4 separate regions of the Homo sapiens genome follow, and all the other regions are reported to be linked to region 3. Evidence: microRNA targets listed by miRTarBase, many of them from high-throughput screens and not tested one by one. Region 3 holds a microRNA gene; each other region holds the end of a gene's coding sequence.

Region 1 (7,105 bases), not on the chromosome of region 3:
GCATCAGGTTATTCTAATGCTTCCTACTGCAAAAACCAAGCCCACAAGTCTCCAATCCTAAAAGTCACTAGAATATTGATATAAGGAATTCTGTGTCAGCAGTATCTCAGTATTCAAACCTCTGTTTAGGGTCCTGCATGTACTATCAAACAGCAAGTGATAGAACATTCAGGCGTTTTATTGGATTTCAGAATTCAGATTCAGAATTAAGTACTCTTGGGATAAAGGAAATTAACGAGCTTTTGACATTTCAAGAACTCATTGAGATTGTCAAAGGCTTCAGTAATGAACTCTAACAAATAGATCCAGAAGTCATAAGTGAGAAAGAAAACAAGCATGTCTAGTGAAATCTGTCCAGTGTACGTAACACTGCACAAAGAGCATATTTTATTCAGACCATTTGGATTCAGATGTACCCTAAAGACAACTATGCTATAATGGCTTGTCTCCTACTTCCTGGCCTCTAGCCCTACCCATTGCCCAGGTGGACGTTATGTTTTTAGTTTTTCCTTTGTGGGTGAGGGAAGAAGAGGACATCAGGTGAAGTGTGCCATTACTATTTGAAAACTAGCTCTGCAGGAAGGGTTAAATCAAATCCTTTACAGGGTGACCTTCCTACATCTCCTTAGAGCAACTGCATTTCAAAATAGGCCAAAGCTGAAGTCATAGGAATGAGACATTAATTGTAGGTTTTCAGGAAAGCTTCGGAGACACGGCAGGTACAGTCTCCTTAGAGCCTTTGAAAATACAACATGTAGGTCCTTCTCAGATTATGCTGAAACTCCAAATCCTTGTTAAAGGTTTTCCTGGACTCCTACAGTCTGGTTTGATCAGTTTATTATTAAGTACTGAATGACAGAGAAGGGTACACAGGGAGGACTTGTATCACATGAAGTAAAATAATTATTTCCTTAATGAGAAACTTAATTCTAGGGTACTTACAATAGCTGCCTTATTGGGGGAAGGGAGGCATAGATTTGCAAATGGTGGGTTTTTTCGTTTTTTTGTGTGTTGGAGTAATTGAAAAGATACATCAAGCAATAATAAACTAGATGTGCAATAATCTTGTCGAGTAGTATGTGCTGGTTTTGGAAAGGTGAAAAGAAAATTGTTACATCAGGCTGCTTTTATCAAGCTAAGCATGGGCATGCCTTTCCAAAGGGTATATTTGATCCTACAGTTAATTTTAACATTGGGCTGCAAGCTTAACCTCATCAGGAGTGGAATTAGATTTTACAAAGTTCCCCTTATCCAAACTACAGCACGCTTACTACTTTCTCCTTCCATTTTCCACACCTCAGCCCCCTAGGACCAGCTACTGGTAAGTCATTTTGTCCATTTTCATTGATCTGGCCACATAAGGAACATCCTGTTTCTTTAAATCCTCAATGCTTAAATTGCCATGTAGAAATCAACTCCCTATCAATTTTCTACATTTAATCCTTGGCTTCTTGTCATATTTTCATTTTTCTGCACTGGTTCCCATGGCAACAAGTCTGTTGGCAGAGAAAGTATGACTCTGCTTTTAGCCTTCTGCACAAGACAAAATCCTTCTGGTGATCCTCAGGCAAGTATAATATAAAAAGTCAGGAATTGACTACAGTTCCCTTGGCTAATGCCTCTAATCCTTTACTCTCTTGCATGCATTTTCCACCTTATTCCCAAACCAGGCTTGAGAAAAAAAGCATTCAAGGGCCCTGCCCAGTATCTCTTTACTGATACAAGTATTCAAAGGCCCTCCTATCCAATCACAGCCACAAAGACTGAATATTTTGGTTCAGATGGCTTTCCCTTCTCCCTAAGTGTCAGTGACTTAACTGACATAAATGCATAATTAATGACAAGGACCACTGGGAGCAGCATCGAGAAGCAACTTTCAGTCATTTTTCTATAAACAACTTTCCTCAGTTCGCAACTGAGGTGTAGCCCAGGGAATAAGTATGTCCTGAATTGAGCCTTAAATCAGTGACTAATAAGGCAATGGAACACTCAAGCAGATTTTCCTCTAATGAGTAGTTAAGTGGCACAGGAGGAGAGGCCAAGGAGTCATCCCAGAGTTCTAAGCTCATAAAGAGGAAGAGATAACAAAAGATGTAGATAAGAGGACATTGTTAACTGGTGGCTGCAAATGAGCAAGGGAGCTTCATTCAGTTGGGACAATTCAGGGTTCAGGTACGAAAAGGGTATGAAGCCTACTGAAAAATAAGGAAATGGAGCATGGAGAAAGAAAGGGTTTTTAAGAGTTAAGTCAGTAGAAAGGGAGCCTGCAAATGAGACAATAGCTTCATGCAGACTTTGGCCCAACTCTGTCTACAAATACTTTTGCAAATAATGTTTCTCTTAATAAAATGATATATTTTGTTTTGAACTTTGGAATTCCATTGTGGCTTGGCACTAAATTATAGGCCTAGCAATCCTAAATCTCCTATGTCCTCAATATCTAGAAACAAGCAGGAACTGTTTGTCAGAAATTAAACAGGACTTATTTGAATGTGCTTTAAAAAAAAAATCAATGAATTCAGGGGAATGAAAATACATGTTAGAAATTAAAATGTGGTTATCTCAGCTATAGTTAAGAAAATTATCAAATGTAAATGATCCCTTTTTTGCTGGATCTTATAAAATATGTGATACTTAAGTACACTGAAGTTTTAAAGTTAGCTGCTTATATTGTACAAAGATATTTTTGGCTCTTTAAAGGTTATTTTCCTATATTAAGAAAAGGTTTCTTATATTGAAAACTTTTATGGTGACTCAGGTTTTGTGTCTATGTATAGGCACACATAAATAGGAGGTGTTTTTCTTTGCACATTTGTTTTGCACAGCTAAAATAATGAGGTTAAATAATGCCCAGGTATGCAGGTCAATTGACCTTTTTAATAGCTTAACGAAAGCATTTGACAAATGGACAAAAGAAATCACATTGTATTTCTTTGTATCTCTCCATTCCTCTTACCCTTCCCCAACCCTCTACTAAAGAATATTTCTTATTTAGTCAGGAAATCTTATGTAATATTTTTGGACGGTCCATAGGAAAAGCAAGATGAAACTCTCAGGCAGACAACATAAAGCAGCTCCCATATCTGCTAGAAAGGTCATTAATTTTCAGAATATATTGTTGAAATAATTTTTATTTTCAATACTTGTAGTCTTTCCACTCAGAGGACTCTTATTTGGCTTGAATGTGGAAAAGGCATCTGGTTCAGGTCAGTAAGGACTGTTGTATGTAAGTTTTACTCTAGAAAATTTGGTTTTAGCTTTGATGACACCTAGCGTCAGTGGAATGCAATGAATGCTTAATACTTCGGCTTTATAATGTTTGGGCATTTCTCTTTAACATCCTCAAATACACTTTCATCCTTGAAAACACAAGCCTATTTTCTGTTTGAAATGAAGAGAAAGGTAATTGACAGATAAACAGATAGTTTTTGTTTGAAGAGCCAATCAAGTTTCTCTTTGTACTCAGTAGGGACTAAAGGAAGCTTAAGGATAATGACATTGTCTTCATATGAAGAAGAAATTTTTTACTAGTGGAAAATTAGAAGTAAATCTACCAAATTCTGTTTGTAAATTTTAAAGACCACCACAAAAGACCTTGAAAAAAGTGAAACTACTGCAAGATTACTGTTGCTTATTGAAAGTAATAATACAGTTTTATTTTTTCCACTTTATAACTGCCCAAGGGCTCCCCCAACCAGCTATATATAAGAAAACCATAACATGAACTAGGGTCTTTCTATTCAAAAAAGAAATATTAAACTAACATAAGCAATTCTGAAGGAAGACAGTGGTAGGTTTTCAGATGGTTTGTTAAGAATTATATGTAAAAGGATACTAGATATTATGTTTTGGATGTTTTCTAAGTATCTATGAAAATTATTTTTTCCTAAACGATTTCATAATTGATTACTTTTGACCTCAGTTATTTTGGGGCATAATCCTTTTACTACTCTATAAAGAAGTTCTACTTCTACCTATATGAATTTGTATTTTCCCATATGCCAAACACACACACATAAATTTTCTTTTTCTCATTTCAGCTCATATAATTCAGTTAGTGAAATATTTCACTCTTCTGTAAGTTTAAGAAAAATTCCTAAGCAGTGATACAACTTTGGGTCGCTATTTTAGTAAAATGAAGAGTCTCTAGACTTTTTTTTTTTTTTTAATGATCTCTGACTTCACTACCATATGTGCAGCACAACAGTGACATCTTAAGGCCAAGTAACCAGAGCTCCTTTAGCCAGAGAAAGAACTTGAATTGGGATCTGATTTCAAAGAAATCCCATTATATTATCAAGTCGTTTTCAAATTTACAATATTCGACTGGTAAAGAAAGTGCTTCTTTATGACTTCTTTTGCAGTCTTTGTGAACCTTTTAATGTGCAATAGTAAACATTGACATTTTACATAGACATATTGTATATTAATGCATGCATTTCACTGCATAGTTTATTGACACTACCCTTGTAAAGCTTTTATGGAAGAACCAACAAGCCACAGCAGTATAGCAAAAGAGGCTTAATCTTTATAAATTGGGGCCTTTTCTGTCTCTTTGCTAGCCTAGGTGGCTGTATACAAATTCGGGTGGGAGGGGGCAGGAAACACCTCTTCACATTTAAGGTTTTCTACTTGGGTGTACTCTAGCCAATTCAAAACAAATTGCTTACTTTAATAATACAATTTTACCATTTTATAAAAAAAATCAAATCACAACATGTTTAACTGAAATGGCTGTATTGTAATTAATATTTTGAGATAATTGTGATTTTGAGCTTAAATTATATATAAAAAATTGTCATTTTTGTATGTGTTAAAAAGACTACTATATCACAATTAAAAGTACTTTTTAGTTGAACTACATATTGATGTAAATAAAACTGAATGAAGACATATTTACTACTTTATTAACATAGATCGTGAATGTACTTACTGGTTTTTTTGCAGTATGAGACCATAACAACCTTGAAAGCTGCTTCATTTTATGTGCAAAGAAGTCCTATGAATCTATATTTTAAATTTACTGAACCAGTGAAATTAATTACTGTCAGTTAATTTGCAAATGCAAGCTGTATTCTCCAGTTTTATTTTATGTACTGACACTAATTGGTAAAGGTGTACAATGTGATTAGAATGCATTTTGAAGATGCTTTCTGTACAGATACAAAATACAGGGACTAAAATAATGCTGTGCAGTGTATAGCAGAGCCATTTTTCGGCTTTGGTGTACTCAACTTTTTCAGTATTTAAAAAAGTGTTTTGAATAACATAAAAGTCTCCTTATTGTATAAATAATAAAATGTCACCTTATTGTAAAGTGTCTTTTGTTTACTATCAAAGCAGACCTCGTAGTCAGCAACAGAGATGTAATAAGAAAAAGGCATGTTTTTGTTTTTATTTTTTATTTTTTTGAGATGGAGGAGTTTCACTCTTACCCAAGGCTGGAGTACAGAGTGGCGCGATCTCAGCACTCTGTCATCCTCTGCCTCCTGGGTTCAAGTGATTCTCCTGCCTCAGCCTCCCAAGATGCTGAGATTACAGGCACATGCACCATGCCCGGATAGTTTTTTTTGGTTTTGTTTTTTGTATTTTTAGTAGAGACGGGGGTTTCACCATGTTAGCCAGGCTGGTCTTGAACTCCTGACCTCAAGTGATCTGCCCGCCTCAGCCTCCCGAAGTGTTGGGATTACAGGCGTAAGCCACTGCCCCCAGCCAAAAAGGCATGTTTTTTTTAAAATGAAAACATAAACATTGTAATCAATATTTGAAAAATGTAACTTTTATTCTGAACATGTAGTATTTATCTTTATTAGCAATTTTTTTCATAATATAAGCATGCCTCAATCATCCAAAAGCTATCTACCTATCTATATAAATTGATATACATGCTACTGAATTGACTTCTTAATAGAATCATATGGTAAGTGTTATAATGACTAATCAACCTACTTCTGATAATTTTGGTGTAAACAAAAATGATATTTAATTTTTATTAAATCAAGTTTACCTATCAAATTCCCTTTTAGAAAAACACTGCAAGTTTAGTCTTACCAAGATTGCAAGTAAATTTTAAAATTATGGTGCTGTAAATAAAAAGGTTTTAAGTTGAAATGTGTACTGAGATTAGCCATATCACAAAAGTCCTATCATGGGTAATGAAAAGTCTTATTTTTAATATATTTTTGTTTCCTTTTTCTTTTGACATGTGGCCCAAGATAAGAAGGTCTTATTTTTTAAATGCCAAAGAACAGTATTCAACAAAATTCGATTTAATTTTATATCTAACAAAAACATAGAAACTGGCTAGTCATATTCAAGTCAATTGGTCACATTGTATGGAATACAAAAATAAATGAGAAAAAAAACCAGTTCTACAAAAATGCTTTGTTATTATAATACTGAACCACATTAAATAAAAATTCATTTTTGAAAAAACTGCTTGCTATAAGAAAATGAAAGTTAGCAGGATAAATCATAAGCAAAACATTTAGAACAAATGTATGAACACATTGTGGTTATCACCATTACAAATGTATACAACACCTTACAAAAATCTTAAATAAAAATGTAAAAATATTTACTGGCAGTGAATATGGCCCAGGCTAATTATACCAACAGGTAGGTGATACTGGGAAACTACAAGATCAATTACAATAATCACCTTTTAAGATGATACTAAAACAAATGTTACATCCTCCTTAGAATTAACCAGGGTTAATAATACATGACAAGGGTTATAAAGCAACTCCATGTTAAGTAGGAATTCGGTCTCTCAAATATTCAAGTATAGCAGCTGTTCCTTTCATTAATATGGCTGCTCGAGGAACTCGGAATGGATTTCCATCCAGTAGTAATGTTCTAAACAAAAGAGAGAAATTGAGAATGTAAACATTTTCCATTAACAAGGTTTTTCATCTAATTTCATTTGCAATTTTATAAATAAAATTTCTGTATTTTTTTTCTATTTGCCCCTTTTTATTTTTATTTCTTTTTTTGAGACAGAGTCTCACTCTGTTGCCCAGCCTGAAGTGCAGAGGTGCAATCTCAGCTTATTGCAACCTCCACCTCCCAGGTTCAAGTAATTCTCATGCCTCAGCCTCCCGGG
Region 2 (7,120 bases), not on the chromosome of region 3:
TTGGCCCCCTCCTGACTGAGGGGTTGGCTCACACCCCTTTCACCTCCATCCCCACCCCCACTTGCCACACTGTGGCCTGCTCCCATGGGTGAACCCCCTGTAGGTGCCAGGCAGCTCCAGCCCGTCTGCCTGCCTGTGCACCCTCAGTCCCTTGGGCCTCCCCCCCCCCCACCCAGAGGTCCTGAGAGAGGGTGCTCTCCGGGATCAGCTCTGTGAAAGTGAGGGGCAGACAGAGAGCACTGAGCCACTATCTGGCTGTGAAGATGAGTTTCAGACACATAAGCCAGTTCACCAGAGAACAGTCAAGACAGCAGATACTTAGGAAGGAAATCCTGCTGGGAGCTTCAGAGGAGCAGGGGTGTGGGGAGGAGGACATGGATGCTTGAGTAGGTGTGGTGGGCGGCCCAGGGCCTGGTCCCAGCTCTTGCATCCGGGGCTAGTTCCCCTGCTTCCCTAAGGATGCCCCCTCTGTGACACAGTGGACACAGATAAAGCTGTCTTTTGGCTAGGCGCGGTTGCTCACGCCTGTAATCCCAGTACTTTGGGAGGCTGAGGCGGGTGGATCACAAGGTCAAGAAATCAAGACCATCCTGGCCAACATGGTGAAACCCTATCTCTACACAAAAATTAGCTGGGCGTGGTGGTGTGCACCCGTAGTCCCAGCTACTCAGAAGGCTAAGGCAGGGGAATCGCTTGAACCCAGGAGGTGGAGGTTGTAGTGAGCCAAGATCGCACCACTGCACTCCAGCCTGGAGACAGAACAAGACTTCTCTCAAAAAAAAAAAAAAAGCTGCTTTTCTGGCGCTGGTCCTGGAGAGTTGGAGGCTGCAGCCCTGGGCAGCAGGCACTGCCGGGAGCCGGGGGAGGGGACTGAGAGCTCTCTCAGGTGGCTTGGGAAGGACCAGGAGAAAATGCACAGACAAGGCTACAGACAGGAGAGAGGAGGCCTGCAGGCAAAGTGGGAGTGGGGAAGGCACCGGGCTCAGGCAGCCCTAGGACAGCTGCTCCCATGCGCCCACAAGCCTGAGGGCCTCCCCCACATTCTACGGAGAAGTTCAGGGCAGCACTTTTGGCCGTGGCTGGGCAGTGTCTGCGGGGAGGCATTTCTGATGTTTGTGTGCCCTTGAAGCCTGAGCTCAGCCAGGAGCACAAGGGCGAGTTTCCCGGCCCCTGCTGCCTTGCTTTCTCTTGATTGAGAAAGGAACCAAAGATCAAAAGGCAGTGAAGAATTGGGGACTCTGAGAAGGGTGACTTTCCAAGGCTTGGACCCCTTAGCAGCTTTGCGGCCTAGGGGCACTTGACCCCTGTGTGATAAGCCGAATCCTCTTTGTCTTAGGTGGGGAATTGGTAGCTGGCTCATCCCTTGCCCCAGCACCTGCAGCAGCGTGGCAAACACTTGGCCAACATGCGCTGAAGGACTGGTCGACAGAGTCCCACGACTGGCTGCTTCAATACTGACCCCCTGAGGGCACTGAGAAGGCTCTGAAGCCGTCTCCAAGAGCAGTTTCATGTGTGCTAGGAGCTGCAGCCACATGGGACTGGGCCTGTGCGTGCTATCCTGGGGCTTCAGGGGGAACCAGCCCTCCAGCCTGCTAAGCGACCAGCAGCAACGCTCGGGCCAAGGCCCTGCATTTTGCTGCTGGCCGTCCTTGGGTGGGTGAGGCTACAGAGGTCTGGACTGGAGGTTGTGGTTGGGGGCCACAGGTCTAGAGCAAAGGGAGGCAGGTGGGCGGGCCTTGTGGGGGGTTCCCTAAAATCCATCAGGTGTGGTGGTCCTGAGGTGAGTTTCTGATATCTGTCCAAGCAGCCATCAGGGGCCAGTCCCTTCCACCAGGAACAGTGAGGCTTGCCCACCACCGAAGCGCTGCTCCCCACCCCCTCAGCCTCGCTCCCCCACCTAGTGCAGCCACCACTGCCATTCCTAGTTCTCTACCAGGACCCCAGGGCTTAGCACTGCCCACCCCTGCTGCTGGTGGATCTCTCCAGGTCTTCTGTTAAGGCATTTTTATCTTTTTTTTCCCTTAAAATTCCCATGACAGATTACATAAAAGCATTTTTAAAGCATGTTCACCGTACTAAAAAAAATTAGGATTTAGAAGAAAACCTAAAGGGGGGAGGAAAAAACCCCCTATAACCCTGCCCCTCAGGGAGCACCAGCAGTGAACCTGCAGTGGATTCACTTCTGGGCGGCAGCCGAGCTCCCATGTGGGACAAGTGCCATGCAGGCTTCGAGGATGGCGGAGCGGGGTGGCGGGAGCAGGGGGCAGAAGAAAGGCTCAGTGCTTTGTTCTTTTTTTGAGACAAGGTCTTGCTCTGTCACCCAGGATGGAGTGCAGTGGCGCAATCCTAGCTCACTGCAGCCTCAAGCTCCTCAAACTTAAGCGATCCTCCTGCCTCAGCCTCCTAAGTAGCTGGGACTACAGGCTTGTGCCATCATACTGGGGCTAATTTTTTGATTATCTGTAGAGATGGGGGTCTCCCTATGTTGCCCAGGCTGGTCTCAAACTCCTGAGCGCAAGAGATCCTCCCACCTCAGCCTCCCAAAGTGCTGGGATTACAGGTGTGCGCCACCACACCTGGCCTCAGGAGGTGCCAGGAGGGTATAAATGGTGGGCCTCAAGAGCGTCATGTCAGAGGGTCTCCATCCTCAGGATGGAACCTCCTGGGGCACATCAGGCTCCTGGATAAAATGAGGGGTCCTCAATGCTCCTGTGGCTCCCCAATGTCATGTGAGGTCCCAGGGGCTTAATCCCTTTCCTGTCACCTTCCTGCTGCTGGTGGGGGTGGGCTCAGAGCCCCTCAGGGAGGAAAATCAGGTTGCTGGCTAGACCAGGAGGGTGTAGGCCACCAGGGCTCTCTCCAGAATTTGTCTGCTCGCTTCGCAAGATTTGCAGATGGTCCCCAATATTAAAGCAGCTTCCAAACACATCTGGACATCAAAGGGGACAAGATGCTCAGAAGTCAGGAAGAAGGCAGGACTCGGGCGACAGAGTTCAGAACTTGTGGTTTATTGACACTTCTGCATGGTGGGTCCTTGGGAGACTGCCTTTCTGGCATCTTGGGACTTGTCCCTAAGAATAGGGAAGACAGTCATCCTGTCCTGGAGCAAAGCTCCCCCTTGCACAGGAACACAACTCCCATGCAGGAGAAGCCCACCGAGACGAACGCAGATAAACCCTTCGCAAGGCCTGCACTGCACCGGAATGGCAGAGCTCCGTGCATTTGGCAAAGCTATGGAGCCTTGGCAGAATGCACAGGACTCTGGGGGCTGCCCCCCTTGAGCTACAGAGGCAGAATCGAACCAAAAACACTGCTTCCTTTAACACAGCCCAACTGGCTTACATTTAGCTTGGGACGAGGCTAGGCCTAAGAAGGGCCAGAGCTGTCCTCCCAGCCCTGGGAACACGGCTGAGACGGCCCGGTGCCCACGCTGGGCTCACCATAGGAGAGGAGAGGAGAGGGAGGGGGCCCCATACTGGCCCTGCCGTCTGCACCCCGTCCCTTTCCCCACTAAACACACCCATTTCCTATCCTGGGTTCTGAGGCTGGGACTGCCTCTGGGATTCTGAGGGACTGCCCTCCACCCCTGCAGGCCTGGGCTCAGAGTCAGCCACACCTGTAAGGCAGGCCCTGCTTCCCCAGCTTTTGTATTCCATATACGGTGCTGGCATGTGGAGCTCCATTCTTCTCCAGCCCACTTAATTTTAAGAATAGACACTAATAAGACTTAACCACCCCAACCTGCTGGCAGCAGGAGGGCCCCTGTGTGCTGGCAGCATCTCCCCAGGACACGCCGGCTCACCTGCACCCACAGCGTTCTAGGAGGTCGCGGCCTCTGCAGACTCAGTGCAACCCCTGGGCCTTACAAAAGGGACACTCAGAGGTGCACTGCCTGCTCAGCTCACACAAGGAACAAGTGGAGAGCTGGGCTGGAGAAAGGATTACAATTTACAGACCAGTGTCCCTGGCTAGGGGCCCTCATGGGACTGTGGCTGGAAGAGAAGGTCGCCCCGGAGGTTGGAGGCTGAAGACACCTGGTGCTTCTTGGTGCAGTCCTGGTCAAGATGGAAGAGCGCTCCTCTGTGCCCAGCTGCTGTGCAGGGGTGGACGAGGGCTCCCTCGGCCCCAAGGCAAGGGCGGAGCAGCTCCCAGTGCTGGCACCAGACCTCTGCCAGGCACGGGGCATGGCCATCCTCTGGGGTCCTGGCTCAGGGGTGGGGAGCGGCAGTGCTGGGACAAGCCTGGGGAAAGGGTTTCCCATACACTGAGGCTGCGAGATCTTCCAGTGGAGCCTCAGGCTAGGGTATGAATCAGACCACCAGGTGATAGGAGCCAAACCTCCACATGGTGAAACTTCACTCTCGGCAGCCAGGAACAGAATTATTAGCAAAGAAAAGAGAAAAGCAGATGCCAATCATTCTCTCTCTTCGTCAAGGTTATGCCCACGGGCAGGGTGGGCTAGTGGTGAGGGTGGAGCTGCGTCCCTGACCCCCAGAAGGAGACAGCAGGCCTTCAAGTTAAGCCAAGCAATACTTGGTCATTGTTTGTGGCCAACCATTCTCTGAATGTCTGAATGACAGCGACTATGTTTAAGGTTTTTTTTTGTAAATAAGAGACCTTAAGCAATGCATTGACTGCATGGTCTCAACCTCATCTGTGCTGTGAGAATGAGGGGTAAGGCTGGGCATGCAGGTAGGGCCCCAGCAAAGCTGGCTCCCCGCTCCCTGTGGGACAGAGGGCTCCCACCGGGAAGGCGGCTCTAGCGTGCCTCCTCGGCGAGCTGAGAGGAGGCCAAGGTGCTTGGGGCACAGCTGTGCAAACCTTCCTGGGGCTCTCGCTGTCTGCAGGTGGACTCTGAATGCCTTCATGGGGACCACACAGCCCAGCTTCCTCCCTTTCTCCTCTCCTCCCCCTGCACTGCTCTGACCTGCCTGGAGCAGCCCTGCCCACCTCCAGCTCAGCCCTTCCTGTGGCTTGGCCCTGCAGATGGCCTCTGAGTCCTCCCCTAGCCCCCTGCCCTCTTCCCTCTACCCGACACCCTCCCCCAGCCTTGCCACTTTCAACTTTGCACGCCCTCAGTGAGCTCCCTGAGGCACCCAGGATCGGTCACTTGTGAGCCCCCTCTCAGGGTGCACTAGGGGACGTGGAGCTCTCATGCCTGTTCAGGGCATGGGGCAGAGCAAGGCAGGCGTGCTGCCAGCCACCGCGGCAAGGTGAGGGGCTGTGGCCTGTGCCATGGACTCCCAGCAGCATCCCTGCTGCCTCCAGACTGAGACAGAGACCCACGGGCTGCCTCTGTGCTTGCCTGAGCCTCTTAATTAAGAGTCTTTCCCAATGAGACCAATTTGATTACAAATTCACAAGATATTTGGGAATGTTCCAATCACACAGCAGCAAGGTCCCTCTGCCTGGGATCCAGCCAGGCCCAAGGGGGTGGGAATGCAGGCAGATGGGCCAAGGTCACCCGGGATGCCCAGAGCCCCGCTGTCGGGCCCAGGCACCACTACGTGGCAGTCGCAGCTCCTGCCAGTCACCTGGGCAGCGGGGGGAGGGGAGAACCTTGGGGGTGTTCAGCATCACAAAGAGGCGGAAAACTCTTCCAGAAAGATCTCACCAAAATCATGCCTCCCTAACAAAACAAATCCTGCTTTTCTAAAAACCTCAATGGGCCTATCCGAGCCCACTGCAGTCCTAGTTTCTTCAAAGCTGTGTAAGGCACTTGAATGGCTTATTAACACCACCTGGAAAAGTTCCTGTTTCAATCCTGATTTAGAAAATAAATTCAATAATACTGCAAAAAAAGGTTCCTTGAAAAATAGCTTTAAAAAAGTAAATACTTAAGTTTTCTAAAGAATAAAATAAATGCTAAGCTCTGCTTAAATTATATGACACAACAGGTCATCTTGGCACTGATAAAACAAAGAGAAAACCTGGAATACTGCTTCGGAATTAGACCTCCCTGGAAAAAAACAAACACACCAACAAAAGACACATGTGCGTCGCCGGTTCCGGGCTCAGGGAAGAGAGCAGCCCGGAAGGCCCTGGTGGGCCCAAGCACATCATGGCTGCCCTGGAGTGGGGGCAGGGGGGTGGCTGCTACAGAACAGACCCCTGGCTCTGCTGCGCTCTCCTCTTTGGGACACTGGTGTGGCCGACCAGGACTGGCTGGGCATATCTGTAAATATGAACCCACCTGGCCCTGGCCGCAGAGAGGAGCAATGGGAAACTGGGGCTGGCCACTCCGCTGCTGGGCCTGACCCAGGGGGTGCTTCAAGAGTTTGGCTCCTGGGTCCGCCCCAGGGTCCCACGTGCACAACCATGCTGCCCCATGCACACCAGTGTCTTTGGTTTGGCTGCCGTTGGGCACCTATGACCTCTGGTCCCACCCCGGGCCTAATAGGAGCTGGGAGCAAGAGCCGGTCCATCTTCTCTTTGGTGAGGTCTCCTAAGCTGCCTTCCACCATCTGCCCGCCACCCAGTGCAGTTCCACAGCCACCAGGACGGGCTGCGGGGGGTGTCCCGACTGGCTCTGGGGTGCTGGGGAAAGCACTGTGGGGCGGGCACCCTGTCCACTGCCTGCCACCTGTTGGGTCCTGAGGCTTCTGAGGGAGAGAAGGACAAGGATGGGAGGAAGGGGAGGGCAGGGGCCTGGAAACCACCTAGCTTCTTGGTGGAGCCTGGGTCTCAGGTTCTGGAAGGCTGGAGGGCAAGTCCTGCCTCCTCCCTTCTGCCTGGGGGTCCCCTTCTCCCTGGTTCCCGCCCTCCAGCAGCTCTTGGGGGTCCCTGAGGAAGACCACCATGACCGTGATGTTGTCGTGGGAGCCCCGCTCCCGGGCCGCAGCCACCAGCTCCTCGGCGACACGGAGCCCGCTGCCCTGCTGCCTGGTCAGGTGGCTCTGGACCAGGCCAACAACTTCCTGGTGGGGTACGACGTCAAAGAAGCCATCACAGGCAAGCAGCAGGTAGTCCTCGGAGCCCGTCAGCGCCCGGGAAGCTGCATCGGCCTCCCCAGACACGTAGGGCTTCTGGAAGACATCCCCTGGACAGGCGGAGAAGAGCCCGGGTCAGAGGACCACGGTGTCCACAGCTTCCTCCCCACCTACCCAGGCCTAGACCTCAC
Region 3 (7,120 bases):
AGGGAGATGGCACTCAGAGACAGTTCTACAAGGGTAAAGCCAACTCAACAGAAGAGTTAACTCAGGGGTCTTCATAAAATTCCACACATTTTAGACAAAGTCGATTTTGTTCATCCCTTGGGGATTCTGTAGCTCACATTTATCAGTACAAAGAACCTGACAGATAAACCTAGGTTGTGGACCTCTGACAAATAGAAATCAGTGATGGTGCATGGTACTCTAGGGCTTTCAGTGTAGAACTTAAAAACGATGAGAATCTAGGATTGGAATTTTAAAAGTTGATTTACATGATTCTCCTGTAATGATGAGAGCAAAATCTGTCTGTGAGATTATTAATAAGTGAACTGTCTTACCCCATCTCCTCATGTAGTTGCTTCCTTCTTATCATTCAGGTGAGATCTTGGGTCTTAGCTGAAATGTTTCTTCCTCTAAGGGGCTTCCCTGGCTGCTCTCTAAATCACGTCCCCCATTGAACCCCAAATACTCTACACATATTGGCAAGGGAAGGGGCCTTGTCTGTCTTGTTCACGGCAGTAGCCACAAGACCAGTTCCCAGTACAGTCATCATAATCATGGCTGACCCTGACTGGGTGTTTGCTGTTTGCTGGGCATTGTTCAGTGCCCTTAGCTGTAATTAAATATCTATACCACAGCCATGTAGATAGGGGCAATTATTAGCCCAATTTCACAGAGGAAACTAGGGTATGGAGGAGGGGTGAGGTCATTGCCCAAGGTCACTCAGTTAATAAAAGACAGAGCCATAACAAGAATTCAAATATTTGTTGAATGAACAGATCACTGAAAATCTTGTTCTGTAAATGTTGGAATCCAAGGGAAGCCATCTGGGGATGGCTTTACTAAGACTTGGGGAAGTGAGGTCCAGTTCTGCTTCATCCGATTTACCTTCGGTTCCTCCCTCTCTTCAGAGTTCAGGGGCTGGTCAGAGGGAGACCTCTTGATCTCGCCCCCTCTGCGCCACTCAGGTGTGCTTTAAAGTATAATTTTCAATCCTTAAAAGTTTTGCCGGGGCCAAAGTTAAGCTTCTCTTAAAACACTCTCTGCCTTTTAACAGCATAGCCCCACGAAATCCCAGAAGTGTCTCTTTTCCTTACCTGAGAAGCTATAGAGACTGGAAAATCCCCTGCCTGTAGTGAGTAAAGAGAGAATGCAGAAAGTTTAAGAAAAGATCATGGAAAGGAGAAGTCTCAGAGTGATGTTTCTACAACACAAAACCTGGCTGGGGGCTGCGGCTCACACTTGTAATCCCAGCACTTTGGGAGGCCCAGGTGGGCGGGTCACTTGAGGTTGGGAGCTCGAAACCAGCTTGGGCAACATGATGAAACCCTGTCTCTACCAAAAATACAAAAATGAACCAGATGTGGTGGCACGTGCCTGTAATCCCAGCTACTCAGGAGGCTGAGTCAGGAGAATTGCTTGAAGCTGAGATCACGTCATTGCACTCCAACCTGGGCGACACGGTCTCAAAAAAATAAATATAAATAAATAAATAAAACACAAAACCTGACCACAATCCTCCCCTGATTAAACCATCAGGTGCTCCATTGCCTTTCAGACAGTTTATACTGGGGGTTTACAAAGTTTCATCTCACAACGCTTTCTCTCCAAAGCAGGGGTTGGTAAGCTTTCTGAAAAGAAAAAAGTAAATAGTACATTTTGTCAGCTTTGCAGGCCATCCCATCTCTGCTACCACAAATCCACCTGTAGTTGCAGTGCACTGCTGTAGACAATATCTACATGAACGAGTGTTGCTGTGTTCTAATAAAACTTTCTTTAAAGGCACTGAAATTTGAATTTCATATAATTTTTTTTTTTTTTTTGAGACAGAGTTTCACTCTTGTTGCCCAGGCTAGAGTGTAGTAGCGTGATCTCTGCTCACTGCAACCTCTGCCTCCCAGGTTCAAGTGATTCTCTGGCCTCAGCCTCCCAAGTACTGGGACTACAAGTGTGCACCACCACTCCCGGATAATTTTTGTATTCTAGTAGGGACAGGGCCAGGCTGGTCTCGAACTCCTGACCTCAGGTGATCTGCCCGCCTTGGCCTCCCAAAGTGCTGGAATTAGAGGCATGAGCCACCATGCCTGGCCCTGAATTTCACGTAATTTCTACATGTCACGAAATATTGTTGTTTTGATTCTTTTTTTGAACCACATAAAAACGTGAAAACTGTTCTTAATTCCCAGGCCACAAAACCAGGTGGCACCTGGGCCTTGGCCCTTGGCCATAGCTTGGTGACTGTCCTCTAAGATAGAGCCGCTACAGCTTCCCGCCTTCCCACAGGTTTTGCCCACCCTTCATGTCACACTATCCTTCAGGTCTCACTTGGAGATTGTCAGCAGAGCTCTTCTGCAAGCCCTGTACTAGGTTGAATCCCTTTGCTCCATTCAGGATGAATATCCCTTATCCAAAATGCTTGGGACCAGAAGTGTTTCAGATTTCAGATTTTTTTTTGGATTTTGGAATCTTTGCATTATACTAGTTGAGCATCCCTAACTGGAAAACCTGGAATCTGAAATCTAAAATGCTACAATGAGCATTTCCTGTGAGCATGACCTTTGAGCATCATGTGGGTGCTCAAAAAGTTTCAGATTTGGGAGCATTCGGATTTTGGATTTTCACATTAGTGATGATCAACTGTGCAACCATGGCACCAGCCCACTGTCACCCTCCTTAACAGTAATTTCTCTTTCCCTTAGTGTCTAACATCTCTCTCCTTGCTAGACAGTAAATCCCTTGAGGACAGGGCCTGCTTGGGTCACATTTATTTCTGAAATCCTAGTGCCCTGCCAGGCCAGGCAGTGCTGGATACTCAGTAAAGGTTTTTTGACTTGCACATGACATTCTCATGACATCTCATTTTTCCTTCCTTCCTTCCTTCCTTCTTTCTTTTCTTTTCTTTTTTCTTTCTCTTTCTTTCTTTCTTTCTTTCTTTCTTTCTTTCTTTCTTTTCTTTCTTTCTTTCTTTCTTTCTTTCTTTCTTTCTTTCTTTCTTTCTTTATTTCTTTCTGTCTGTCTGTCTGTCTCTCTTTCTTTCTTCTTTTTCTTTCTTTCTTTTTTTTTTTTTTGAGACGGAGTTTCGCTCTTGTTGCCCAGGCTGGAGTACAATGGCGCGATCTCAGCTCACTGCAACCTCTGCCTCCCAGATTCAAGTGATTCTCCTGCCTTAGCCTCCCGAGTAGTTGGGATTACAGGCGTGCCCCACCAAGCCCAGGTAATTTTGTATTTTTAGTAGAGGTGGGGTTTCACCATGTTGGTCAGGCTGGTCTCAAACTCCTGACCTCAAGTGATCTGCCCACCTCGGCCTCCCAAAGTGCTGGGATTACAGGCGTGAGCCACCGAGCCCGGCCCCATGACATCTCATTTTCTATTATTATTGTTCACTGCATGCTCTGTTTGGAAGCTCAGCACTTCCTGATTCTTTGGGGGTATTTGAATTTAGGGTGCAGTTAGAACTTTCAGAGTAGATAACAAACCTCAACTCCTTCGTTTGGCTTGAGCTGTTCCCCACCCCTGGCTGGAAGACTCCAGGAGCAGGTGAAGGTTGTGCCCACAGGCACGACTGGTTTGGCAATTCAGTAAAAATGCTCAAACCGGCTGTGCCTGTGGACGCAGCCCAGCGTGAACTCAACCGTTTGGAAAACAGAGGAAAACAGAGACGCTTACTCCGCAGGGAGAGCTCCACGACCAGGACTCCCCCGGTCTGGTCTCGCAGGAGGCGCTTCCGTTTATCGCAGGTCTGAAGACCCAGAGAGGCAGACAGGAGAGAAGCGGGGAAGGTGGGATGATGCGTGAGCAAAGGGGAGAAAAGAGAAAGAAAAGATATTTTAAAAAGGTCACAAATGGGGTGGAGTCACAATTCCCCAGTCAACAGAGATGAGTTACCTTTTTAAAAAATAACCCAGAAGACACACTGTTCATCCCTTCTCCAACTTGAATACAAAGAGAAAGCTTTACTTTGTTAACTCTTCAAGCCAGAGGGAATCCTTCTGGAAGAGGTCATTGAGTGTGGAAGGGATTGATCCCATTTCCTTTGATAAGGCTTCTACTTACCACTCTCACCACAATAATTAGAGAAGTGGACACTTGCAATTGTATTCTGGTTCATTTTCTTTTCTTTCTTTTTAAAAATATGGCATTGATACTTATCCTTTGATCAACTGTACAGTGTCTCTCCCCTCCTCTCCCTGGCTCTGCACTCTCTGGTTTCTTTCCCTTTTGCTGTTTGTGCTCATAAAGAACCATTTTCTGGCCAAATGAAACAACAGCAATAGAGATTATGACCTTATTTTTGTTGGTTACTATAGGCTATGTGGATAGCAGCCTCTTTGGAAACACCGAGGTCTCCAGTTGAAAGAGACCAGAAAGGAGAACAGTTTGAGATTTGGCATGTCTAAGTGTCTAAGTGGTGGTTCTCAGGCTTGAGTGAGCACCGGCATGACTGCTGGCTTGTTAAAGCACAGCCTGCCCAGGCCTTCCTCTCACGTGGTCAAATCAGCCATGATCCAGTGTCGGGAATTTCTGCAGCATCTCTCTGAAGTCACAGAGGTGAACCCTCGGGCTGTTCAGTCAAGACTAAAAACACCCACCTTTTGAGTTATTTCCACGGCCTGTCCCTGCCACCTAGACCTTGAATTTCCCTTGCCCTTTTCACTTCTTCCAAGTATTTCCAAGTCTGTTATCACTTTCATTTACCTACACTGCCCTCTGATGAGGGAAGGGCCATCATTACTTAACACACTTTGCTTAAGGATGAGAAAGCAGGTCCCAGCAGGTTAGGCGACACATGCCAGACCATGTGGGTTGTTGGAGGCAGGGCAGATAGGGCCCTGAGCATCTGCCCTCACGAGCATCTGCCCTTATACTCAGTGCCATTTCCTCCAGATGTCCTCAGCACACAGCTGCCCTGGCCTGGTTATGATCTCCCCACTCAAACTCCAGCTCCTCCAATACTGGCACCCTTTAGGTAACATTGTCCTTCTGGAGAGAGGCAGCTCACCACTGGGCAGGAGAGTTTCTCACTGTCGCAGATGAACGTCTCACAGTGTAACCACACCTTGGAGAGTTTGGGGATGTTCTGGAACCGGAAAGCATTGAATTGGAAGGTTGCCCTGTGATCTCTCCCATTCTCATGCACGAGGACGGTTTCATCCGTGGGGCAGCTGAGGCAGATGGGGAAAGAAGAGTGAACTGTCATCTCCTTGAACTCCAGCAAGAGCTGCTGAGCGATTTACACACAAGGCTCCCGAGGTGGTTATATGACCTCTAACCTTCCCAGGCATTTTGATTAGCAGCACCTCACTTGATCTTCACAACTGTGAGGTCAAGTTGATGAGCTAGGAGATGGGTATTACTGTCCTCATTCTATAGACAAGGTACGATGGGAGGGGAGTGACTTATAAGAGTCACACTTTTAGTAAGTTACACCTGTGTCCCAAAGAAAGAAAATCCCTAGGAGATAAGGCCCTCCGAGGACTGGAATATGTCCAGCCCTTGAGGGACATACAAAGTAAGGACAATGGCACCAGGTGCAGCATTGCCCCTGCTGCCACAGCTGCCTAAGCTCAAGTCACACCCAACACATTTCTGTGTGTGAACTGTGAGGTTTTGCATTGAAAATTTGTATTTATGGTATATTATTTAAATTATATATATCTACATAGTTACTTTTGTAAAAATGTGGTCACATTTTTAATATAAGCACAGAAATAATGACTGAAGGATACCGTCTAAATGTTAACACAGGCTGATACAAAGGGATAAAATTATGGGCATTTTTGGTTTTCTTCTTTGTATTTTTATGTATTCTTCCAAATTCTCTATAATGAGAATACAATATTTGTATGATATTCCAACGTCTCAAAGGTAATAATTCAGTTTAAAAAATGACACAGATGGGCATTTATTTAAGCTAGTGGTTCTCGCTTGGTCCACTTTGTGCCCCAGGGGACATTTGGCACTGTGATTGTCCAGGCTGGGGGAAGTGCTGCTGGTATCTAGTGAGTGGGCGGAGACCAGGGCTGCTGCTGAACGTCCTACAGTGCACAGCACAGCCCCCACAGTGGAGAATGGTCCCACCCCAAATGTCAAGGTGCCAACATTGAGAAACCCTAGTTTCAGCAAACATACTTTTTCATTTAACAAAGACTGATGACCTAAGTGCCGTTCCTTTAACTAGGTGTTGGAAACAGACGCAACCATTCTTGGGACTGTACAGAGAAGCCCACACTATTGTGGGGGTTTGTTATCTGCAGGTAGCACGGGGTAGCAGGGTCTGTCGCTCTGCAGGAAAAGGTCTATGTTTCGAAAGCGTCAGACCACTGAATAGCACCATAGCAGGCCCCAGATTAATGCAACTCTGAAGCATCTTTCTTCTTGTATGGTAAACTCGGCACACACGCCAGAGAGCGGTCCAGTTACCCCAGGGAACCTTCATGATGTTCTCTACCCCACCCCTTTTCCCTCAGAAACAGACAACGGGGGGCCAAGCTAAAGGCAGGCACTAAGGAAGTCAAGTGTGAGAGTGAGGGAGTGAAGTGAGGGAATGCTGTACCTTTGTATCTGGACCAGGGGTCAGAGCCGGGTCTGTGTGTGGTGGGCTCTGAACAGTGATGAAACTGTGGCATTTTCCAAGTTGTGAAACAAGACTTCTGTAGGATCATTTTGTCAATAAACACGAGATCCTCGTATGAACTCAAGATGGGAGTTCTTAAAATAGCTCTTTGCAGCCAGAGTGCCCCAGGCATGGTCAGCCAGTGGAAAATAATGTAAGCAGAGCTTTGTCAGGGGGTGGGGAGGAGGCAAAAAATAGGCAGATCTAGATGCCTTGGCACTGCTGCTTCTTGGCACCAGCTGCAGCACCCACACTTCAGTGGCAGCTGCCTCTAGATGGTGGAAGCCCACAGGAGGCTTTTATGCCCTCTCTGCATGAGCCTCCTTTCCCATGTCAGATTGCTCTTTGAGATAAGTATGCTGCTTTTGGGGCATCCATGTGTACAGGGAAATTCCTTATGATATATCTCCTGCCATCTCTCCAGGAACTTTTGCAAACTGGGTTTTTTTTTTCCAAAGGGGCCCAGTGTTGTGAGCAAAAATCATCTGGAGA
Region 4 (7,120 bases), not on the chromosome of region 3:
TCAATATTGTGAACATCTGGGACAAAGTTTCACTGAGTTTGGTCCAGGAACTTGCACTTGTTAACAAGCACCTCAAAAGATTTTTATGTATGATAAAACTTGAGAACCACTGACCTAAGAAAAATATAGATGATTTTCATAACATTACATTGAAGAAAGTAAAAGCAAAGGGGAGGTGTTAGAATAAAATACTTTTTTACTATAAAGAGGTGTTCTTGCCTGTTTAAAAAAAAAAAACAACTATTATTTTAGCTTAGCAAAAGTTAGCACTCTATTATTTAGAAAACCAGAATTGTAGACCAGAATTAGGCTTTTTTCAAATGAATACAGAATTACCCACAGCCTCAACAAAATTGTCATTTTGTTGTAACTGTGGTAGTTCTTGTTTTTCCATTGAAGTTTTATTGATCTGTAGCTTTAAAAAGTATAATGTGTCAGTTAAAAATACCCTAAAGATATGTAATTTTGCTTGTTTTTGCTTTAGAATATCTGTAATTAAGAATTCTTAACATCAAAAATGTTTTCATTGTTCTTAAGCTGGTGGCAGATTAGGAGAAAGCAGGAAAATTTCTTCATGGGAATACTGGACCAGTATTAACTAGCACAGCTTTATGCTTTTTCCAACCATCTGTCACCTTTGGAAACAGTATATCAGATGAAGTGCAGTAATGACCATTATGCTGTAAAACATTTAATGTCCTTTTAAAATTTTGTTTATATAGAGCTGGGGCTTTGTGATCATGAAAATTCTCTGTTATACCATGGGTCATTATAATATGAAGGCAAAGAGGGTACTTTGCTTCAATTAGGAGAAACAGTGCACATCTTGCAAAATAGAAGAGACAAACCTTAGAGTGTTTGCTTAGTAATAGCTATTTCAAGACAATTTCTGAACTGTATCTACTGTTTGTTGCTAATGAAAGTTACATATGTTAATAATTTTAGGAATTCGAGAGGAGAAAACAGGAGAGAGAAGAAGCCCAAAGGCAGTACAAAAAGAAGAAAATGGAAGTGTTTAAAATACTGAACAAAAAGACTAAAAAGGGCCAACCAAACTTGAATGTACAAATGGAGTACCTTCTTCAAAAAATACAAGAAAAATGTTAAACATTTTGTTCCTACAGGTTAAAATATCTGCTGCCTATTAGGTTCTTCTGTGACATGTGCCTCCCAGCAGTGAACTAAATTTGTCGACATAAACTGGATTGCTAAACTATGCTAAATATAAGATGTTCACATATTTTTATTATGGTAAAAAATTTTCTAAATATGTTCTACATGTTTCTTATTTATTTGCCTCTGAAGGAAGGTTGGCCTGAAGAACTGAAAGAACCTCTTATTTTGCAAGACAGGCCCAAGCATGTAATACTTTTGTACCATATGAGATTTATATGAAATAAATTTTTTAAAAATAAGGAATCAGAGCTATCAATGAAGCATTTCAATGAAATATTTCAATTTAGTAAACAGTTACGTTGTTTTAAAATTTATTTTAATGATGAGGGAGGCAAAGACTCCTCTTGGACTTTTTATTTATTTTAAGTACATGTTACAGGGTGATGGGTGCTGAAATAAACTGCCCTCACCATATAACAAAGCGACCTTCACAAAGCAGTGAACTCAAAGTCTGATATTTATAAACATTCCCTTAAATGGATGTACATGGCTTGTTAGTCTAAGGTCTTTTAAATAATGATGGAAACCCCACAGTGTCACAGCAAGAATTAAGCTTTCCAGTTCCTATGGACCCTATACTTTAAGAACATTATCTCTGTCTCCCTTGTTGGTACCCTTGTGAGCTGAGATAAGCCACTGGGATAACTGCTTCTCATGCTTTGCAAATTGCAGAAGAATGAGAAAGGCTTGAAATATATATATAGTCATTGTAAGCAAAAAGGGCTGACCAATAATACTTGCCAAATATTGAATAATAAAATTTTATAAATGATAGCAAATACAGTCTGAAATTGCATTAAGATTTTAGGGAGCTCTTTCAGTCTACTAATTTATTCTGCATTTCAAGATCAGTAGAAAGTGCTTAGATAACACTGAACTTAATCTTCATTGCATAGAAAAGCAATGCTTTAGAAATTTGCATTGCACTATATTGCATTTAAAGTAAGCAGCCCAGAAAGCCTAAATTTGGCTACATTGGTGAAGACACATCACATCATGATGGAGGATAAATTATTTCAGTAAATTGCTTTACAATTTTTGTGCATTTTCACTTCTAGACACTTAATCATGACAAAACATGGAAGGAGATCTAGTCCTTTTGAGAGACAAGTGAAAGTCAAATTATATTCATTTTAACGACTTTGTTAAAAGCTACTTTATGCAAAACTTATATTAAGGAGTTACTCTTTAAAATTCCAAAGTTCTTGTAGAGGAATAAATGCCAAGTAATGGTATAATGGGGGAAAAAGTAATCAGTGACAATCAGATAAAGCAAAAGGTTAAGATTTTAGTGTTATCAATGAAGCACCCAGGAAGCTTTTCCTTTTTCGTTTTTTTTTTTTTTATTATCTTGGTGGTGGACAGTCTCCCGCCCACGCTGCAGTGCAGTGGTGTGATCATGGCTCACAGCAGCCTCAAACTCCTGGGCTCAAGTTATCCTGCTCAGCCTCACGAGTAGCTGGGACTACATGTACGTGCCAACACCTGGCTAACATTTTCTGTAGAGATGAGGTCTTGCCAAGTTCAGCCTTGCCTGGGCTGGTTTTGAACTGGCCTCAGGGATCCTTATGGCTCAACCTTGGCCGTACAAAGTGCTGAGATTATAGGTGTGAGCCACTGTGCCTGGCCTATAGGCTTCTTAAGAGGCATGTTTGAGGACCCTACACTAAGGAATTTGGATACTGTAGATGGGCTTAGTAATGGATGTTTTAACAGGCAACCCCAGTGATTCTGCTGGGTTGCTCCTCGCCACACTTAAAAAATGTTGGACCAGGGCCTCAGAGAAGAAAGAGGTTTTGTTTGGTTTAAGAAATCAGAGAAAGTTTCATGTGTGCAATAGCATTTAAGGAAAGCCTTCGAGGTTAAAAAGATTAGAAGTGTAAGAGCATGAGGAAAGTTACAAAGGGAAGCAAGCTTGGTATTATTTAAATATCTAATAAGTAGTTAGAATATATTATTATTGATGGAGGTAATAGTTCCTATCGGTTCCCTATTGTTTCCTTCCATGTGGAGAAGACACCATCATCCAAACACTCATGGTATCTTTACTTCTTGTCCCACTTGTTCCACCCAGGGGAGGTAAAGTAATAAATGATGTCTGGGAGGAGGACCTGGGCTGTCAGCAGAGTGCATGTACTCTTAATTGCTATTCTAATACTATAAGTGAAGAACAGGCTATATTGATAAATGTTAGAAGGGGGATGGATATTTTTGGAAAATATATATAGAAATTTGTGCTATATGGGTTAGTACATCAAGAAATAAAAGAGGAATAAAATTTGAAGGAGCACAACATAGAAAGAGAGAGGCTTAATTGTGGCCATAGCTTATGGTTTCTGGTTTCAGACCTTAATGTATACGTAGGGAGCTTTGATCTTGGTAGTTTGTAGAGGCTTCTATTAGGGCTATTAATTTGACTTTGTAAGTGTGAAGTAGGCTTTTAGTTGCAGTTTTGGCAAGAGGCTTTAAGACTTAAGGCACGTGGGATTTTGACCTAAAAGTTTAGGATATCTTTGTCCAGAGAAATTGGTAATTTCTATAGAGACAATGTGCAATACTGGGCTTTAAGCACATATGCGCAGGCCTCAATGAAGCAGAGTTTGAGTGAGGGTGATGGAGACATATTGGCTTCAGCAAAGACAGAGAATCTGGAAGTGGGGCTCACCCAAATGCTGGCCTCATGGATGTCCTCACCAGATGCCAGCCCAAGGTGAGGCTTAGCAAGCTACTGTAGTGGTGCTGGCATCAACAAAGGCACTGGCATGTGCAAGTGGTCTCATGCAGGCTACTGCAGCTTGACCTTGGCCTACATTAAATATGCATGTGTGAGCAGCAAAGGCCTCACTCATCAGATGCTGCTAACTCGACACCAGAAAACAATTTTATTCGTGGCAAGGATTTAATGATATAAGAAGAAATATTCATAGCTATGCTAGATGTTAATGACTGTATCAGTATTTGCTACTTTTAAAGACATGTGCCTTGGTTGCAATATAAAGTTCTAGAAAAGCTCAAGGTCTAAATTGTTCTGAGAGTCATTGAAATGCTGTGTAAAAGAGAAAATTTTGAATCTGAAGATATTTGAACATACTGGGAAAAGATCAGGTCTCCTTTGACTTGGTGATTGGGACTGGACCACTCCAAATTCTATACTTGGTAAGATAGCATCAGTGTTTCAGATGTCACTTTCTGAAAGAGAAGATAGAGTACCATGCTAAATGCATGGTGAAAAGTTTAACTTGTTGCTGACAAATTTCTTCCAACTTAGTTTAAGTGTGCAGCTCATGTGACTGGCATTCTGATAAGGCTAAAGCCATCACCGGTTATCTTCCTTCCTACTGATTCATGAGTTCCTGCTATAGAGTTTCTGCTACATGTAGTCTTTGGCAATAAATACTACTGAGTTTTGGGAGCATAATTTTGTACAGGATAACTGCCTTTTAAATTTGGTGGGTATAAGGCAAGTATTGTAATTACCTTGGGTGTTTTATTGACTCTCCAGACCTTTTGTAAGTTGAGGCACACCATAGAGTTATTGAACTAATTTAACTTCTGAAGTGCCAAATGAATGTGTTGTATCCATATCCAAAAAGAGACAGCCAGGCTGCAGCTGCTGAAGGAATCCTGAGAGGCATTAAGAACATTTCTGCCTGTGAGTGAATCCAATAAGAAACTGGGAAGGGCTTTAATTTTATTGAACTTTTACCTTATTACAGTGAGAGAATTTGATTCTGGGTTTTGATTATTTTGGTCTTTGGACATTAACTTGAAAGGTAACTTAATATGTAGACTTAATTTTCTCCCCAGGAGTTTGATAAGAGGAAAGATTTATACTGAAAGGTGGGACATCTGCATTTTGCTGGCAAATTAACATTGGGTGCTTTTTATGTATTTGGATAATTCCCATTGAGAACACTTGATTGAATCACCCATGGAGCTGATAGAGAGCCCTGTGGTGGAAATGCTACTTATGGGCCTGATGACCTTGGGTTTTACAAAAAGATTTATTGAGGTATAATTGACTGAGCATACATAAAATGTTCAATTTGGTGACTCTTGACACTTGCATATGCTCATGAAACCATCACGGCAATCAACTACCTATCACCATCACTTCCTAACGTTTCCTCATGGCCTGTTGTAGTCAATCCCAGGCAGCCACTAATCTGCTCTGTCACTAGTATGCATTTTCAAAATTTTTATATAATCAGGATCATATACTATAAACTTTTTTGTCTGGGCCTCTTTAAGTCAGCATAATTATTTGGAGATTCATCCATGTTGTTGGATTTATCAAAAGTTTGCTCCTTTGTATTGCTGAGTGTTCTATTGTATGGACATAGACAATTTGTTTATCCATTCACCTGCTGATAGGCATGATAGGCATTCTTTTTTTTTTTTTTGAGACTCAGTCTCACTCTGTTGCTCAGGCTGGAGTGCACCAGTGCATTCTCAGCTCACTGCAACCTCCACTGCCTGGGTTCATATGATTCTCCTTCCTCAGCCTCTCAAGTAGCTGAGATTACAGACGCATGCTACCACACCTGACTAATTTTTGTATTTTTAGTGGAGACAGGGTTTTGTGACGTTGACCAGGCTGGTCACGAACTCCTGACCTCAAGTGATTAGCCCTCCTTGGCCTCCCAAAGTGCTGGAATTACAGGTGTGACCCACCACTCCTGGCCTGGCTCTTAAAAATAAAGCTATTATGAACATTTGTATATAAGTCTTCTACGGGCATACACTTTAATTTCTGTTAGGTAACTACCTAGGAGTAGAATGACTGAGACACATGGTAGTTAGTATTTAACATTTTTGGGAAATATGACACCTGTAAAATGACTGGGTACTGGAAAAGGAGCTTCCTGGTAAAACGGATAAGGAGCCTATGAAGTCAAATTAGTGGTCCAACAATGACACTCCTCTAAGGACCTCAGTAACACCCCATTGTCTGCTCTGTGTTTTATCTATTTGCAGGGTCGGCCTTCCAGTTCCTAGAGGATATGCATGCTGTATTTTCTACCTTAAATTTCACCACTTTATCTCAGTCTGTTCTTCAGAGAACAAATAAAATAACTGGGGAGGATGTCTCCAGCAAACACTGATAGGCTATGATTTTACCAGACTTGTAACTTTTCCCAGTTTCAGTTGTGTGAAACTAACTACAACTAACTTATTGCTCCAACTAAATTATTGCCACTCACTCTGTAATGGTGTTATGGAATTAAAGTACACCAGAAGGCAGCACATTGGAACAACCCAAATTACAGCAGATCCTTTGCATCTGTTGGACTCTCCTGGTGCACTGTTAGATCAGACTACTTCTAGTCTTCAGGCTAAAGATTCTACTGATGAGAGAAATATTTGCAATTGACCAAGTAAGGTTCAAATAAATCCTTATAACCCCCCACCAACGTCATTCCAATATCTACACAAACCTGAAGAAATCACAGGAATAAAATCTATTATTGAGTCTTTATAAGAATAAGGACAGCCATATCTCATCCTTGCAATCTTCCCATATAGCCGTTTAAGAAGCCTATCAAGAAAGGATACCCATTTATTCAAGAACTCAGGGTAAGCAATAAAATTATGATTTCTAGATTCCTGGTAGTTTCCAATAGGAACCTGTCTTGTCATCCAATTGCTGAAGAAGTAAATATTTATTTCATAGTGGTAGATGTATGTGCAGCATTCTTTAGTACACATGTAGATACAGTTAACATTTGTTCACTGTTTTTGTGGGAAAATTAACAGCATATGTGGCTATATACCATAGTTGCTCCACCCCCCACCCAACCCTCTGCATCCCTGGTTTTGCTTTTCAAAGTTTCAGTTACGTGTGGCCAACTGCAATCCAAAAATATTAAATGGAAAATTCCAGATTCCTAAGTTTTAAATTGTATGTTGTTGTGAGTAACATGATGAAATCTCACACCATCTC

The links. The annotated mature microRNA hsa-miR-6715b-5p reads ACAGGCACGACUGGUUUGGCA and lies in region 3 at 3,568-3,588, shown strand. An mRNA with a match to its seed (bases 2 to 7 or 8) in the 3' UTR can be bound and repressed. Matches are read on the target gene's strand: a 7mer-m8 pairs with bases 2 to 8, a 7mer-A1 pairs with bases 2 to 7 and ends in A, and an 8mer does both.
Region 1: miRTarBase lists LRRC40 as a target of hsa-miR-6715b-5p. The part of its 3' UTR that is shown has no 7-base or 8-base seed match.
Region 2: miRTarBase lists PPM1F as a target of hsa-miR-6715b-5p. Seed matches in the 3' UTR shown: 7mer-m8 at 5,495-5,501 and 7mer-m8 at 4,173-4,179.
Region 4: miRTarBase lists CCDC59 as a target of hsa-miR-6715b-5p. The part of its 3' UTR that is shown has no 7-base or 8-base seed match.

What each region holds. Positions count from the first base shown.
Region 1 is chr1:70,139,048-70,146,152 of GRCh38, forward strand. It overlaps LRRC40 (leucine rich repeat containing 40), which reads right to left. Exons shown (of 15, transcript NM_017768.5): 15 at 5,758-6,858. The coding sequence ends at 6,753. LRRC7 (leucine rich repeat containing 7) reads left to right here. Exons shown (of 27, transcript NM_001370785.2): 27 at 1-5,317. Among named protein-coding and RNA genes, the nearest start is that of LRRC40, 63 kb to the right of the region's middle. RefSeq lists an enhancer at 1,717-2,218.
Region 2 is chr22:21,916,433-21,923,552 of GRCh38, forward strand. It overlaps PPM1F (protein phosphatase, Mg2+/Mn2+ dependent 1F), which reads right to left. Exons shown (of 8, transcript NM_014634.4): 8 at 2,993-7,039. The coding sequence ends at 6,660. Among named protein-coding and RNA genes, the nearest start is that of PPM1F-AS1, 18 kb to the right of the region's middle. RefSeq lists enhancers at 485-1,295, 3,471-4,130, 4,792-5,450.
Region 3 is chr10:112,296,126-112,303,245 of GRCh38, reverse strand. It overlaps MIR6715B (microRNA 6715b), which reads left to right and starts at 3,558; the gene lies at 3,558-3,634. TECTB (tectorin beta) reads right to left here. Exons shown (of 11, transcript NM_058222.3): 8 at 5,015-5,177; 9 at 3,682-3,754; 10 at 1,113-1,145. It overlaps MIR6715A (microRNA 6715a), which reads right to left and starts at 3,634; the gene lies at 3,556-3,634. RefSeq lists an enhancer at 581-875.
Region 4 is chr12:82,347,138-82,354,257 of GRCh38, reverse strand. CCDC59 (coiled-coil domain containing 59) reads left to right here. Exons shown (of 4, transcript NM_014167.5): 4 at 946-1,955. The coding sequence ends at 1,107. Among named protein-coding and RNA genes, the nearest start is that of CCDC59, 7.7 kb to the left of the region's middle.